2 separate regions of the Homo sapiens genome follow, and region 1 is linked to region 2. Evidence: fine-mapped expression QTL. A gene starts in region 2. The other region holds a variant in brackets. All regions are shown on one strand. Distances are between the middles of the regions.

Region 1 (2,915 bases), 6.5 kb after region 2:
TGCAAAGTCCCTTTTGCCATAGAAGGTGACATGTTCAGTTTCCATGGATTCAAGCATAGTCACCTTTGGGGGGCATTCTGTCTACCACAATCCTCAAGGAAAAGGCTTTACACTCAATGACCGCTGTTGCTGTGGGACACAGGGTCAAGGTTACATATGATATCTGAGATGTCTTGAGGGAAAGGTGGGAATCTCACGACAAGGAGCAGTTGACAGTGACACCCTCACTTGCTGGTTTGCTTTTAGCACATAGTGACAGATGAAAACCTGTGCCTTCACAGTGGCCAAGAATCAGAAATGAGAGTCCAGTTAGTTCCCTTCTTCCATTCAGATTTATATGTCTCATATATCTTTCTCAGCTATAATCGCCCAAGTATTGAAAATCAGAGCCAGGCTTTTGACTCACTGTGCCACAAAGTATTATACCAAGATTTTTAAAAATAATCATGCCTATCCAATCCCATTGCTCTCACTAGAAATTTGATTAATAATAATATATTTTAATGAGAACAAAAAGGGTTTCAGATAGTTAATAGACAAAATCTTTTTTTTTTTGAGACAAAGTTTTGCTCTTGTTGCCCAGGATGGACTGCAATGGCACGATCTCGGCTCCCTGCAACCTCTGCCTCCTGGGTTCAAGCGATTCTCCTGCCTCAGCCTCCCGAGTACCTCGGATTACAGGTGTCCGCCACCATACCCAGCTAATTTTTTGTATATTTAGTAGAGATGAGGTTTCACCATGTTGACCAGGCTGGTCTTGAAATTCTGACCTCAGGTGATCCACCCACCTCGGCCTCCCAAAGTGCTGGGATTACAGGCATGAGCCACCGCGCCCAGCCCTATTTTTAAATATTTATTTCATCGGTATCAATTTTTAAATTTGTGTTTAGATATGTGTTTTTAAAAATACATATTTAATATGTATTTGTTTAATGTTAATACATTGTTTAATGTTAATGTATTTGTTTAATGTTAATATGTAAAAATACATATTTAATATGTATCTGTTTAAAAAAACAGAACATATTAGTTCAACAGTATGTGTACAAAAGTTATAATAAGTATATACGTGTTAGATGTGCATTCTCAAAAATGTTTTTATTAATGAAGTTGCTCAAGTAAGGTTCGGAAGATAAACCTTTGGGTCACAAGACAGACATCGTGCTGGGCTAAACACAAACCTTCTGGAGATATTTTAAAGCTTCCTCAAACTTCCTAAATATGCTGTGTTTCAAAATACTTGGTTCTTGGGTTGTGATCGATTTTTCAGGCAATTTAGAGAATCTCTTTTCCAAGTAGCCCCTTCCCTACACTCTTGTTTTAGCTGAAGAACGTTAAGAAAAGAAAATGGAGTTCTCTTTCGAGGTACTGTTTACTGAGGTGCAAAATGAGAGACGGGGTCTGGGCCTCCTGGTTTCTTGTGTTTGGGTCCAGCAGGAGTTGAGAGCCTCTGAATGGCCATGCTGGGGGGTTTCCTGTGCAAGACTTTACACATTTGAGGTTC[C/T]ATCAATCCGGCACCTATGGGACAGGAAGCCAGCAAGGTTTGTGGAGCCAGATAGCCAAATAAAAAAGAATCACCTTTTACTTTCCTGAAGTTAATTAATGCTGAGTGGAGCAGGCCAAGTACAAAAACTGATCAGGCTTTCTCTGAGCAAAGACTCCACATTTTACCCATAAAGCCAAATAAGCCTGACCCTGGGACCCCCACAAATGCAGGTCAGGCCTAGCTGGGAGGTACAGAGGAACTAACACTTTTCCCTTCACACTCCTTCTGGTGTTTCCCTTCTGGGTCTTATTTTTATTCATTTTTCCAGTTTATAAAACACACTCACCGATGGGCCCTTGGGGCACATGTGGAAAAGCTTAAAAGACACAAGTACAAAAACAGACTGACTTAGAGTCAAGAACCAAAACCCTAAGAATTCTCCTCTATCTCGCCCCCACCCCCTACTCCTGCCCAAGTTACATTATGGGCCTTCCCCTCCCATATTTCCTAAAAGGTCCATAAAGTTGGGCTTTTTCCAAAGGAAAGGGAGGTAGGTATCAGAACTATTCTCTTAATATCTTGATCCAAGGTTTTCTCGGAGCCTGGTGCTGTAGCCTAAGGTGGTTTGGCAAAGGGGTTGCTTGAACAAAGAGGTCAGGCCTCAGCAACGGGCAGTGAGGCCTCTGCTCCCAGGCCCTGGACAGCCTCCAGAACATCCGGGTCACTCCTAAGAATCCAGGATCCAGACCCAGTACACACATATCAGGAGCTCAGATTTCCCACATCAGGAAGGGAAATAAAGACTACTTTCTTAGGCCGGGCGCAGCATCTCACACCTGTAATCCCAGCACTTTGGGAGGCCGAGGTGAGTGGATCATGAGGTCAGGGGTTCAAAACTAGCCTGGCCAAGATGGTGAAATCCAGTCTCTACTAAAAACACAAAAATTAGCTGGGCATAGTGGCGGGCACCTGCAATCCCAGCTACTCGGGAGGCTGAGGCAGAGAATTGCTTGAACCCAGGAGGTAGAGGTTGCAGCAAGTCTCCATCGTAAATAAATAAAGTCTATATTCTTTGAGGGCCCAAACAAGATGCTTTCAAAGGCCCAATCTTCCCTCCCTTTTAAAAAGTGTGCTCTCGCCAGGCGCAGTGGCTCACGCCTGTAATCCCAGCACTTTGGGAGGCTGAGGTGGGCGGATCACCTGAGGTCGGGAGTTCAAGACCAGCCTGACTAACATGGAGAAATCTCATCTCTACTAAAAATACAAAATTAGCCGGGTGTGGTGGTGCATGCCTGTAATCCCAGCTACTCGGGAGGCTGAGGCAGGAGAATCGCTTGAACCCGGGAGGCAGAGGTTGCAGTGAGCCGAGATTGTGCCATTGCACTCCAGTCTGGGCAACAAGAGCCAAACTCCGTCTCAAAAAAAAACA
Region 2 (2,915 bases):
ACACCCTTGATGTACTGGAGACGGGAGGTCAGATTTGATTTACATTCACAGGCAAAATTGAAGTTAGAACTCACCCCAACTCAGCGGAAAGGAGACTGCGGGACAGTGAGGACTCAAGGAGTAACTGTGAGGCAGCTTAAGTGAACTTCACTCAGGGCACAGTAGGTTTTCTTGTTCTAAGTAAATATCTTAACAGTTTCCAGTTTTACAAATTTAAAAACAGCTAAAAATATGCACACTTATATTTTCTAGTTTTTGCAGATGATGCTGAGGCAAGTTAAGAGGGAACATGCTAACCACCAAAACCATCCTCATTTTCATGACTAGGTGGACAGGGAGGAACCGAGGCTTGTACTGCCCTGTGTTGCATAGTAGATAGCTCCTCTCCTGAGGCAGGGCTGCTAATGACCCAGGCCCAGTTAGCCAGACCCTCCCTGGTATAGTCTGCTGATGTCATTGAAAAAGGACATGACTTCTTATCTCAGCTGCTGGCCTGTGAGCTGGGGCTTCCTGCCTCACGGAAGGTGAGAGAGGGAGAGGGAGACAGAACCCTGGCAACCTGGGACGGGCACAGTGGCTCACACCTGTAATCCCAGCACTTTGGGAAGCCAAGGTGGGTGGATCACCTGAGGTCAGGAGTTCAAGACCAGCCGGGCCAACATGGTGAAACCCCGTCTCTGCTAAAAATACAAAAATTAGCCGGGCATAGTGGCACACGCCTGTAATCCAGCTACTTGGGAGGCTGAGGCAGGAAAATCCCATGAACCCAGGAGGCAGAGGTTGCAGTGAGCCAAGATTGCACCACTGAACTGGGAAACAGAGCGAGACTCCGTCTCAAAAAAAAAAAAAACCCTGACAACCTGGTGCCAACCCCTGGATCCAGCTGTTCCTGTATCCCATATTCCTCTGCACTTCCCAGTTACATGAGCCAATTATTCCCTTTTTGTTTATTATTAGTTTGAGTGTCTGTCACTTGTAACTTAAATAAGCCTGCCTACAAATTCTAGCCAAGGCATTCATCTTCTGGCAAGCCTCTATAAAGAACCTGTAGGTGCTGCTTTTGAACACGAAACTCCCTGCTTCATTTGATCACTGACTACCAGAGAATGCAAACTCTTGGACAACATGAGCACAGCAAGTATTTTATCCTCAGTCCCTCCCCTTCCTCTGACTGTCAGCCTTCAAACCCAATGCCAATCCCATCCCCACTTCCCCCTGACTCCACCATCATTACCATTGTCTCCCTTCTTCGTCTTTGTCAAAGTACCTCACCAGTGAAAGAAAAGTGACCTCTGCTTCAAAAATGAATAACTGCCACGAATGCGGAGAGCCACAGCAAAGGAAACCACGCCTCCTTTGATAAATACCATGCAGCTGCTGCTTGGTGATGATGGTCTCGCCCTGGTGGAGCATTCTAGGGTCAGATGTTTACAGAGAAAAGGCAGGCAGGTGCCAGTGCTTGAACATCAGGCCAAATCCCAGGTTTCCCCAGCCGTCACTCATTCTCATGCACAAAGTAGAGGCCCTGCAATTGCTTCCTAAGACTCAGTTTCCTTATAGGTAAGCTGGAAAACATTTAGTATTAACAAGCACCAGAGCTATGTCAAAGGAGAATCATCCAAAACATTGCTGAGCCTTGACGAAGATGAACAGCACTCAGGGGAAGAATTCTAGGTGGATCTTTGGGTAATAGGAACCCTGAAAACAGCAATGATCCAGTAGGTGACATGTAGGGCGTGCCCCTCGCCTTCCTGGACTGGTGCTCAGCATTCCACTTGTATGATCTCATTTAATCCCCACAACACACCCATGCGGTGGGAAATAATTATCATCTCCACTTTACAGAGGAGGCTCCTGAGTCTTCAAGAGAATGTGAGACTTGTCCACAGTCACTCAGTAGTGCAGCCACAGTGACCTTGAAGTCAGGCCCGGTGTCTGGCCTTTGTGACCATGCCATCCCAGGGATGTAAAAGAACTCAACAGTTGCTCAGAATACCCCTTTTACCATCTCAACGACATGGGCAATCAAGGACTGCCTTGCTTCCTGCCGGGTTCCTGAGTGAATCAGTGGGCATGACTTTGAGAAACAGAAAGCTCTAAAAATCTTGGGTGTTATTACTGTCTAGGCAGTGCAGTCAGAGATGATGTTGATGGTGGTAGCCTGTTTTACTCATCTCACTCTCAGAGGATGCTAATCACATGGGTGGGAAATTTCATTAAACAACTGTCTCCTGGAGGCAGATGTTCATCCCAGAGCAGATTGGCATTCAGTCCCTTCCCCCCAGCTGGCCTGAAGAGCACTGGCAACGCAGGCCAGTGCTCCAGAGGTGCTGGGATGGAAGGTCCTGAGGTTAATCCTCTTCCAGCATTCACTATCCATGCACCCTCTAAGTTTCGCTTTCTCATCTGTGAATTTTCTCATCTGAGGAAGGGCTGCCGGCAGGAAGGGGCCAGTGATCCAAGCCCAGTTAGCCAAATCCTCCCGGTACAGTCTGCTGAAGTCATTGAAAAACCCCATGTCTTCTCATCTCAGCTGCTGGCCTGTGAGCCTGGGGCTGCCTGCCTCGTGGAAAGTGAGAGAGAGAGAGAGAGAGAGAGAGATAGAACTTTGGCAACCTGGGTTGGGCTAGGTTATAATAATACCTACTGTAGGTTATAATAATACCTGACTGTGAACTGGGAGCCATAATAATACCTACTATGGGTTTTCTAGGAGGTGAGAAGTTTGTCTTCTACTTTTTTTTGAAACTACAAAATACTTTAGACATCCAAAATGTAAGTATTAATATATAACCCACCAGCAGCTTAAGAGATAAAATGTTGTAACTGATGCACTCCTGCCCCAGTTCCATTCCTCTCCTTTCCTTACCAGAGGCAACCATTCCCCCAAGTCTGATATAGATCAAGACTTGGAA

Evidence for each region. PIP is the estimated chance that this variant, and not a neighbour inherited with it, causes the effect.
Region 1: its variant is the best candidate, but not a certain one, in a credible set for the expression of MIR4432HG in whole blood (TOPMed, PIP 0.89).

What each region holds. Positions count from the first base shown.
Region 1 is chr2:60,396,544-60,399,458 of GRCh38, forward strand. It overlaps LOC102724142 (a long non-coding RNA gene), which reads right to left. Exons shown (of 2, transcript XR_007086327.1): 2 at 1-273. Among named protein-coding and RNA genes, the nearest start is that of MIR4432HG, 6.6 kb to the left of the region's middle. The variant C/T (reference allele first, on the strand shown) is at 1,505.
Region 2 is chr2:60,390,072-60,392,986 of GRCh38, forward strand. It overlaps MIR4432HG (MIR4432 host gene), which reads right to left and starts at 1,304. Exons shown (of 2, transcript NR_132992.1): 1 at 1,235-1,304.